Linked DNA regions of Homo sapiens. The protein of the gene in region 3 interacts with the protein of the main gene of each other region in a biochemical or structural test. Each region holds a gene or a part of one and is shown on either strand. Other genes may lie near its edges.

What was found.
Region 1: the proteins of IGDCC4 (region 3) and LTF interact in a biophysical measurement, tested with the Homo sapiens proteins (one large-scale study listed by IntAct).
Region 2: the proteins of IGDCC4 (region 3) and IGFBPL1 interact in a biophysical measurement, tested with the Homo sapiens proteins (one large-scale study listed by IntAct).

The regions. Positions count from the first base shown.
Region 1 is NC_000003.12:46,437,951-46,440,978, forward strand, and holds part of LTF (lactotransferrin isoform 1 preproprotein), read right to left. Parts: intron 1,531-3,028; coding exon 1,346-1,530; intron 180-1,345; coding exon 1-179. UniProt on the Homo sapiens protein: Transferrins are iron binding transport proteins which can bind two Fe(3+) ions in association with the binding of an anion, usually bicarbonate. Lactoferricin binds to the bacterial surface and is crucial for the bactericidal functions.
Region 2 is NC_000009.12:38,407,323-38,410,970, reverse strand, and holds part of IGFBPL1 (insulin-like growth factor-binding protein-like 1 precursor), read left to right. Parts: intron 1-1,753; 3' UTR 1,754-3,648. UniProt on the Homo sapiens protein: IGF-binding proteins prolong the half-life of IGFs and have been shown to either inhibit or stimulate the growth promoting effects of the IGFs in cell culture. They alter the interaction of IGFs with their cell surface receptors.
Region 3 is NC_000015.10:65,420,000-65,424,273, forward strand, and holds the start of IGDCC4 (immunoglobulin superfamily DCC subclass member 4 precursor), read right to left. Parts: upstream 2,949-4,274; 5' UTR 2,864-2,948; coding exon 2,794-2,863; intron 2,404-2,793; exon of another isoform or gene 2,056-2,403; coding exon of another isoform or gene 1,947-2,055; intron 1-1,946.

The DNA.
Region 1 (3,028 bases), on a different chromosome or scaffold from region 3:
CACTTTTTCAGATTAGTAATGCCTGCGACATACTGTGGTCCCAAATATTTTTCATATGTTGTTTTGCCATGGAGTCTGGCCAGACACTCAGTGTTGTCATTGAACAGAAGGTTTTTGGTTTCAGACTGGAATAAGCAAAACTTGTCCGGGCAGTCAGATCCATTTCTCCCAAATTTAGCCTGCGACAAAAGGGCAGACAGTGAGTAGCTAAGGAAAAGAGGAATTTATGGGTTAAAGGAGGCAAAGGGGTATTTCTTCCACCCAAGAACAGCCCTGAGAAAACCATGGGGCAGAAGGAGCTGAGTTCTGGAGTCATTCCACCTCCTTAGTGGAGTCCCCCACCCCACACTCCTGGTGGCAGGCCCGCCTTGGGCAGCATCCAGGCCTCGCACCACTTCTGGTCCTACCTCCTACCATCTGCCATCTTTCCTTCCTTCTTAACCTGTGACCTTTTCCCATACAACTTCTTATGGGTGACAAGGCAACAATGGAGGGGTTTTGAGATCTGCCCTCACAAGTCAATTGCTCAGGACATTCTAATATGCAGCTCTTCTAGAGAGGCAGGCTGCTAGGAAAACCCAGGCTCAGCCACTAACCAGCTCAGTGTGCAGGTCGGTCACCCTGCCTCCCTCACACAGTTCCTGCTCTGTCCCAGGCTCCCATGTGGGGAGACTGAGACCCAAACCCCTCAGTCACGGCAGCTCTCTCACCAGCACCACTGTGTGTGCACATTAAGAGCTCCATAAAGGCCAGTTATGGTGGCCAGTCTTGTTATTCCTGAGTTGTTTTCTTCAAAAGCACACAGAGACATGATGTTATATGATAAAAATAGAAGTTCTAATAAAATCCCAGATTTTAAGAAAATTTTGGGATTTCGTTCAAATCACATTTAGAGAGCCCTAAATCTATAGGGCACCTTCTGAGTTTGCTGTTTTAGAGGCCTGGCCTAGAGCACTGTTCACTCGGCCCAGGTTCAGGAAATGTCACCTGAGTAAAAAGCACTATACTAATGCATGTGGGAGGAAGGCTCAGTGGCTTCCTCATTTGCCAGAAGAACAGCAGGAGGGAAAAAGACAGCCTCTGAGCCAGGCAGTGATGGCAACAAGGCCAGGGCACAGAGTCTCAGCAGAAATGGAGTGAGTCCCAGAAAGCCCAGAGTCAAAAGCCTCTGTTGTTCTTGTTGACACTCTGGGCAACGCCACAGCATGAAGCCAATACTCTCACCATGAGCTTCAAGTAGAGGACTAGAGAGGATCGAGTGGGCTGGTGCACCTAGCTCTGTGATCTCCTCACCTAACATGAGCCCACACAGCTAAGAAAGCACTAGAAGCCCTGTGGTCCATACCTGTTGGTGGAGCAACACCTGTTTCAGGCGTTCCACCTTATCCATCCGAGACACCACGGCATGATTCGGGGCCATGGCAAGATGGCAGCTTCTAGCCTCAGTCACAGGCTTCCGTTTGCCATCGAGGCACAGCAGCGCAAAGTCTGCCAGCTTCAAATCCTTAGCCCATGCCTCATTGTTATTTCCTGGGGAGAAAAAGAAGGTGGCATCATCCACGCCTCCCCTGCTTAGCCAAGAAGTCTCTTCTGGGTGGGTGTGGCCATTCCACTGACCTCCCAAATGCACACACTGGGGTTGTGGTGATGTGAGGAACAGAGAAGGAGCTTCATCCTACACAAGCTGTACAAACTTCAAATATACCAAATATTAGTGCTGTGTCCATGCAATGGAATGTTATTCAGCAATAAAAGGGAGTGAAGTTCTGGTACATCCTGCAATATGCATGAACCTCGAAAACGATGCTAAGTGAAAGAAGCCAGTCACAAAAGACCACACAATAGGCTGGGCACGGTGGCTCATGCCTGTAATCCCAGCCCTTTGGAGGCCAAGGTGGGAGAATCACTTGAAGCTAGGAGTTCATGACCAGCTTGGGCAACATAGCAAGACCTCATCTCAAAAAAAAAAACCCACCACATATTATATGACTCCATTTATATGAAATGTCCAGAATAGGCCAACCTATGGAGACAGAAAGTGGATTGATGGTTGCCAATGCTGAAGAAGGATAGGGCAATGACTGATAATAGGTGCAAGGGTTTCTTTATGGGAGGATACAAGCGTTCTAGAGTTGGATTGTGTTGATGGCTGCACAACTCTGTGAATGTGCTGGAGATCACTGAATTGTACACTTTGCATGGGTGGATTTTTTAGTATATGAATTCTACCTCAATAAAGCTGTTTAGAGTTCTTATTTTTTTAAAGAAGAAAACCCTCCACCTATGCCATATTTTTCAGTGAGTTCCAGAAAAAGAATAGATGGTTTACATTCAAGGAGAAATTGGTTTCTCCTCCCTTTCATATTCAAATGCTATTAGTGTAACCAGAGAAAGGAAAGGAACTTTTATAGGTTTATCAAATATATACAGCCAATTCTAACAAAATACAGTTGTAAAGTACCGGAGAAAGTTAAAATTAAATTTGACATCAATCTGATCCCTGGAGATTACTTCAGTTAATGGCTTGTAAATTCTAAATGTAATTGTATGCATGTCTATGTTTGTGCAGATGCCGGCTCATTGTTCCGGCTCCCGTTTGTCTCTCTGCTCTCTCCCTTTAAGAAAGCACTTTATTCATTCTCTTGGATTCCTCTATTTGATATTGAAATAATTTCAAATTTACATGTCTTGTTTTAATCTCTGTCCCAAGAGACACTAGAAGGAGCAGAAGCAGAAGGGAGAAGTGGCTGAGACTGCAGTGATTACTGAAGGAGGGAGGCCGAAAGTGGAGACAGTTCTTTCTCAGGAAACAGAATAGCAAGTCACCTGCTGAGACTTGGGGGTTGGAATGCTGAAGTGGGGCTAAGGAGACAGATGCAGATTGGAAGGTAGCAAATGGCTGAGGACCAGGAGAGAGAGTGATTGTTCAAACATTGGCTGGAAGATTATCTTCCATCATCTGCAACCACCTGTAATTTTGTTCCCACTAACTCCCAAGGAGTCTCCAGACCAAGGCTCACATGGGGAT
Region 2 (3,648 bases), on a different chromosome or scaffold from region 3:
CACCTGAGCTTCCTTCCTGGGGCTCAGGCCTTGCCTTCCTGTCCTCAGCACTGTGTGCTGCTTTGCAACACATCTCCTTGTGGGTAGGGGCAGAGAGAATCTCTGCATCCCCTCTGGTCAAGGCCTCCTAGTCTGTAGTCACACAGGTGACAGCTGGGGTTGCATCTGTTCCTTGCCTACAGGTGAACTGGGAATTCGGGAAAGGGATCACTTTATAAGCCAGCTTTTGCTCATAAAAATCCCAAAATCTTGCTGGTTCACAGCCACAGACGTTGATCACTTGCTCATGTTCCATGTTATAGCTGTGAGCTGGCTGTGGCCCTGCCCCATGTGTCCCCTCATTCAGGACCCAGCTGGAGGAACAGCTCCAGTGTGGAACATGTCCGTTCTGTGGCCAGGCTGCACACACCATTGCATTTAAAGTTTCTGCTCGGATGTGATGTGTGCCCCGCCCATTTACAGACCAATCATTTTTTTTTTTTTTTTTTGAGACAGAGTCTCACTCTGTCACCCAGGCTGGAGTGCAGTGGTGCGATCTCGGCTCACTGCAAGCTCTGCCTCCTGGGTTCACGCCACTCTCCTGCCTCAGCCTCCCGAGTAGCTGGGACTACAGGCACCCGCCACCACACCTGGCTAATTTTTTTGTATTTTTAGTAGAGACGGGGTTTCACCGTGTTAGCCAGGATGGTCTTGATCTCCCGACTTCATGATCCGCCCGCCTTGGCATCCCAAAGTACTGGGATTACAGGCGTGAGCCACCGTGCCTGGCCTGCACGATCCTCTTACAGGAATGGGGGAGCAGTGGTGAACAGGCACCATTACCAAGGCTGATCAACAGGTGCTTAATAGAACAGGAAAAATTAGAAACAAGTCTGATAGGGTTTCTCAAAAGCAGGGGGATTTTGCCATGGTTTTAGTTATATTATTCTTTCAGCCACTACTGTTGCACACCTTCTGTGTGCAAGGCCTTACTTCTGGTCTGTAGGGGATCACAGAAAAACAAAAAGTGGACATAATTATAATACAAGGAGTGCGATGTAAGGGAATGGGAGGAGATATTAAGGCATGAAAAGCAGCTTAGAACTGGGGAAAATGAAGGAAGAATCATCGAGGAGGTGGCATGAGGATTGAAGGATGGGTGTACGTGAGTAGTTAGAGGCCCTAGAAATGGGGAGAAAAATATGAAAATGTAAAACTGTGAAATAGGAATTCAACAAAGAGTTAGGAGATTGGGTCTTAAAATTGTCTTCCTGATGATATGTGACTTGTTTTATATAGATATGTTTCCAGTTTTAAATATATATATCTATAATTTTCAAATACACGTATATTTTGAGGCAGAAATGATTCTGGGTTGTGAATACATCAAAAGGATACCATGAAAAATTGTGGAATTTTAAGAGCATCACTGCTGCCTAGGTCTTGAGTTCCTTCTGTGACACACAGTATTGCCAGCTCTGGCTTACATACCTCCAGGGATACAGAGCTCACTACCACTGAGAGCCATCTGTGGATTTTCCAATGGTTGAAAAGATCTTATTAAGCTGGAGTCTGCTGCTTTGAAACGTCCACCTTTTGGTCTTAAAAGTACTTCTTGGGACTCCACAGGGCCCTTCACTCTCCACTGGCACCATTTCCTGCTGGGGAGAGATTCGAAGTGAAGGATCATTTCCCCCACCTTCCATGTAACACATAGTTGATTGTAACGGAGCAGGCTTACGTTCTCTAATTCTTTCTCTCCTTTTCTTCCTAGGGTCTTAGAAACATTGATCATGGGATGATGGAAAAGTCAAATAACGGATCTTTGTGCTTCATGAAGAGTTGGAAAACCTGTGTGTGTAGATGACCCCTTTTGTGTGTTTTTAAAAATTAGATGCAAACTAGATCTGTATGCAGATGTAGTTTTTAGCAGGGCAAACAGTGAGAAACGGATTTGCATGTGGCTTTTTTATACTTTTGAAATGAATTGTTCCATGAGAAGTCTTTTTGTAATTATTCTCTTCCAGGGAGATCACAGAACGGCATGTTTGCAATTTCGAAAGGGCTCGTGTCAGCTGTGACTCTTTACCTCATTTGTCTATGACCTATTAGTGGTGCTCTGTGACTTAGTGTGTGTTGTAGAAGGAGGGATGAGGGTCCCAGCTGTCCTCTGCCTGACTGTAACTTGCTGTGTGACCTGAACAGATCCCTTCCCCTCTCTGGGCCCTGGTCCCTTCATCTGTGAGTATGGCATTTTAACTGGATGTTATCAATGTCCCTTTTAGCCCTGCCATCCTAGATTAAGATGGCCTTTTGGGAAAATAACAGGAAGTGTGGTCTTAGTGTTCTTTCTAAAATGGTATTCCCTCAGAAACAAATTCCATTGCTTTACCCCAACGTGTGGACAGCTGGCTGTAGCTCTTCTATTCCTAACTTTTTCCCTTTGAAGGAGATTTAGTTTTAGGTGGGATGCTTTACCAGACTCAGGAGCGCCTTGGCTGGGTCTTTGGAGACCAGAGCATCCATTTGTTAGCCTAGCATTCTCTTTTTTAAAATTTTATTTTGAGACAGGGTCTCGCTCTATCACCCAGGCTGGAGTGCAGTGGCGTGATCATGGCTCACTGCAACCTCCACTTTCTGGGCTCGAGTGATCGTTCCACCTCAGCCTCCTGAGTAGCTGGGACCACAGGCATGCCCCACCACACCCAGCTATTTTTTTTTTTTTTTTTTTTTTTTTTGTAGAGACAGGGTCTCCCTATGTTGCCGCCCAGGCTGGTCTCAAATTCCTATGCTCAAATGATCCTCCTGCCTTGGCCTCCCAAAGTGCTGGGATTATAGGCATCAGCCACTGTGCTTGGCCTAGCCTAGCATTCTCTAAACAGGTGGTTAGAAGCGGTGGATACCAGGCTTCTGACGATCAAATTGTAAAAAAAGGGGTCAGGTGTTATCTCCAGACTGTGGAATTAGATTGTAGTAGAATATATTTTACCTACAAACATTTTGACCTCACCCAAGAGTAAGGCTCTCTTTTTTTTCTTTTTTAATGAAAAAAGAAAGGAGAATATTTGCTATCTTATCTTAAAAAAATAGATCCTTAGGTGATTACAATTTTAAAATAAGAATTGAGAGCCCTTACTATGCACAGTCCTTTAAGTTCATAAAGCTTGATCCCAACTCTGGGAGATGGGGCAGGACAGGTGTTAATGTCCCTGCCTTTAGCAGATGAAGAAACCAGGCTCTGAGAGGAGAAGCTACTTGCCCAAGGCCTGAAGGCCTCTGAAAGAGGAGCAGAGCTCAGGGCACCTGGCCCTCCTTGGTCCCCTCTCTACTCCACGGTGCTGCTACTCAGGGTCATCTCAAAACTATGTAAAGGCAGATGTTGCCAATCCACAGGCTTCAGGGACTCTTATCAAGACTCATCCCAACTTTTAAGGCACACTTTCACACCGCTCACATTGTGCATTACATTTTGGAGTCCTTGTTGGAAGTGAACTTTCCGCCTGTAAGCCTGCCATTCCATGTCTAATATATTGGGATGGCATCACCTTCTGTACTATGCAGCAGAAGGAGACTGGCCTGGGATTCTGGAAACATGAGATCCATTTGCATATTAATCCCCGGCTCGCTGTGTGACCCTGAGCAAGTCTCCTTCACTTTCTGTGCCTCAGT
Region 3 (4,274 bases):
GCAGTGGCGTGATCTCAGCTCACTGCAACCTTCACCTCCCAGGTTCAAACGATTCTCGAGTCTCAGACTCCCGAGTAGCTGGGATTACAGGCATGCACCACCACACCTGGCCAACTTTTGTATTTTTAGTAGAGATGGGGTTTCACCATGTTGGCCAGGCTGGTGTTGAACTCCTGACTTCACGTGATCCGCCCGCCTTGGCCTCCCAAAGTGCTGGGATTACAGGCGTGAGCCACCGCACCCGGCCTATTTCTTACTTTCCTCTCTCTCGCCCCCTACAAATTCAATCTATCCTCAAGTTCTACTGATTCTATTTCCTGAAAATCTCTGGAATGCAGCCACTCCAGCCCAACCCCAACTGCCACTATGCTAGCTGCCACCATCCTCTCTTCTGGATTGCTACAACAGCCTCGAAGGAGCTGGAGCTTCCTGCCTCCAGCCCCACCCAATCCATCCTCCACACTGGCTGGAATGAGATGATGCAAAGCTGATTTTAAATCCTGTCAAGGGCTCATGGGGACTCTCAGGCCAGAAACCTTGGTGGGCCCTGTAAAGCCCTTTGTGAGCTGGATCTAGCTCCCCTCTTCAGCCTCCTGTCTTGATACTCCCTGACCCCTTTCCATGCTTCCCTCACCTGCCCCCCATCCACCCCTTGTCCCTAAACTCCAGCTAGATTTAGTTTAATCCAATGATCTCAACTAAATCACCTCTGAACTTTGCACATGCTGTTCTCTGGAAAACTGTCCCCATCATCATTCTCCTTCTACAGGGCTAACTCCATGTCGAGCTCTACTACTCATCACTTTCTTCAGGAAGCTTTTGCTGACCTTCCCAGATCGGTGTAGGAGCCCCTCCTTCCTGCGTCTTCCCCAGCACTTCAGGGGACTTGTCAGTTTCCCCCTCCACCAGACTGAAAGCTTTGCACCAGGGATCAGGTCTGCCTCCTTATTTACTATATTCTAGGCACTAGGCACAAGCTAGCCTATAAAAGGTGCTCCATAAATATTTGTTGAACGAATGAATGACCTCAGTACAGATCAGGGTGGCTAGTCATGACTCGACTGGAGTGTCCCCCGGCCTGCTGAGATTTGGAGGACCAGGGCAAGCTGTTGTAGCCACTCACACTGCAACCAAGAGACGCCGCAACTCGGTCCCTCGCCTGCTTTGTGCGTTCGGGAGCAGGGAGAGGCCAGGGAAGCTGGGTCCCTCGCGGCAGGTCCTAAAGGTATTGAATAATGCGCCGGTGCGGTTCCCAGCCCTGATGCCGTTTAGCTGGGTGACCCTGAGCTCGTTCCAGGAGCCCTAGGAATAGCGGAAGGTGGGGCAGGGGAACTATTCCTTAATCCCCTGAGCTCTGGGAAGACAGACCTCTCTCTGACACTTCCCCGCCCCTTTCACCTGACAAGCCAGGGCCTCCAGCTCCTCTGGCCCAGCAGCCGAGACCCAGCCTCGCGGCGGCCTCCAGCTTAATCCGCTGTTGGGGCTGGAAAGGGGCGTGTCTTTGTAGGGACAGAAGGGGTCCGAGGAGTTCCCGGCACTTTCCCACCCGCTGTTTGGTTTTCCTGGAGATGGGCCTGGGGCTGGCCAGGCGGAGGCTCCTTCCCCCCGCCTCCCTCCCACGTGGCCTGGCTGAGTCTCTCTGGAAAGCCGCAGCAGCTGGAGAGAAATCCCCCTCCCCACCCCCACCTCCAAGTCCCTCCCCGACTCTCCCCGGACACATCCTCAGCTCCCCCCTCCGCGGGGAAGGCAAGAACTAGGCGAACAAAGCGGCCAGCCCATCCCCCTCCCAGCCCTGCCACCTACACTCCCCATGAGCCGCCCCCAAACGCACACCGGACAGGAAGCGACAGAGCTGTGGGTGGAAGCCGCAGCCCTAGACACACACCCTTGGGGACTTCGCTATCCCCTCCCCAGCCCTTTCTCCAGCTTGGACAACTCTGACTTACCCCGTACCCACTCCGCACTGGGCTGCGGACTGGATGAGGCCCTGCTGACCTCGTCCACGCTTCCCTGGTCGGTCCCTGGGGGGTGGGGCCGGGGTGACACGCGTCCCATCGTGAGAACAAGCGCTGGACATGTCCACGAAAGCAAATGGTTTCCTGCCCCCTCCCCCAGTCCACTGCTGGCCACAGGTTTTGGGGAGCAACACCTCCCTCTACCCCTCTCTAACCGGCCCCAGGGACCACACCCACTGGGCAAAGTTGAGTGTTGTTTTATCACCACCACCCCCAGTCAAACGGGATCCATCGCTCTGTCCCCCACTATGGGCAAGGACACTTCCCAAATGCCAAGGCCAAATATTAGCTCAGCCCCATAAACACAATTGCACACGCACCCGACCCAAATGGAGGTGCAGACACAACCCCAGTTCCCTCCTCTTTTACACACACTCTCAACCCAAGACACGCGCAGGCAAGGCAGAGCCCGCCCCGCGAAAGCCACCGACACCGCAGCTACCCGCCCCGCCGATGCCACGCCGCGACCATGGCACGCACTGCGGACACGACAGGAGCACTCCCAACACACACACACACACACACACACACACACACACACACGACTCCAGACTCTGCGAACCAAAGGCACACACCCACTGCGGACAAGCACGCCCCACAAACGCCCCCCGGCCGCAGCTCGCAGACCCCCGCGCAGGCATCGCGGGCACCTGGACGCGCAGCCCCCGCACTTGCTCGGGACTCCGGCTTGAGCCAGCCCCGCAGCCCGATGCAGACCAGGGCGCGGGCGCACCAGCACTCCGCAGTCGCTCCTGCCTCTCCGGGCGCCCGCCCTTACCGCGCGCGGCCAACAGGCAGAAGGTCAACGCGAGGAGCCCGCGGCCGCGGCCGGCGTCCCCCCGCGCCATGGGGCTGGGCTCGGGCCGCCGCCGCCGCCGCCGCCTCCCCGTGCTTCGGCCGCCGCCGCGGGGGGAGAGCGCGCCGGGCGTCAGTGGCCCGGGGAGGCGCGGCGCCGCGGGCGGGGGCGCGGCCTCGGGGGCCCGGGCCCGAGCTGGGGCCGGCGCGGGGGCCAGGGCCGCTGCCGCCTCACCCGCCCCTCCATCGCCATCTTGGGCGAGCGGCCCGGGAGGGGGCGCCCGGCGAGTGTGGCCACCCTGGCCCCGCCGGGGACCCTGCGCCCGCGCGCCACGGCCCTGCGCCTCGCGGGGGCTCCTCTCGGCCCGGGTCTGTGTCCCGGTGCCTCGCCCTCTCCGGGTCGCCGCGGGCCCCCGTGAGGCCGCCTGTTGCTGGGTCTGTCTCTTAGTCTCCCCGTCTCTGAGTCTTCTGGTCTCTCTGCCTCAGCGTCTCTATTTCTTCTCCCTGTTGCTGCCTCGGGGTCTCCACCTCCGTTCCAGGCTCAGGGGAGGCAGATTCAGGGCCACGGTCTTTGTCCAGATGGCCCCCTTGCCACCCGAGCCCAGTCCATTCCAGCCCAGGTCCTGGCCTGAATGCTGGTTCGCTTCTCCACACGTTGCGCCAGCCCACCTGCGGAGATCTTGATAGTCCTATCTGCCATCCCAAACCAAGGGCTTCTCTTGGCCTCCTTCCCTTGCTCTGGCAGTAACTAACACAGGCAGGACACTTTTACACTACCTTCAAGCACTACCATATTCAGATGTCGCCGCATGGGGAAACTGAGGCTGGAGAAGGTGAAGTGACTTGCCCAAGGACAGGAGGCTAGGGAGCAGCAGATACAGGACCTGAACCTTGGTTTTCTGACTTCGGAAGGTCATCTCCACTCCCTCACCCTGCCTCTGCTGTCCAGCATTTACTGAAGTACCCTTTTTCTCATTCTTCAACGGTACTTTCTCTAACCTACCTAGCCAGACTGTTTGCCTCAGTATCCCGCAAATATTTCTTGTTCTACAGCCAAGGGTTCAATTGTCAGGCTAGGGTGGGGAAAAGAGTACAGATTCAATGACCTAGTTAAGGTCCTTTCCAACTCCAAGATGCCATAGTTCTTCCCTTCCCTGTGTCTCTAAGTGTTCCTGTGACTTAGAGCCATCTTGTCTCTACACCTGTCTGTTGTCAGTTAACCCTCAATAATCACTGGCGCTTTGCATATCTAACAGGCCTGGCGTTTATTCATTCATTGCCACGCCCCATCTTCACTTGCCCTATCAGCAGCATTTGACTTAGTGAATCACTCCCTCTTCCTTGAAACACTTGCTTCCCTTAGTGATCTCATCTGGTCCTCAAGGCTTTAAAGAGCATCTTTATGCTAATGATGCCCAAATGTATACTTTCAGCCTAGACCATCTTTCCTGAACCCTGGACTTC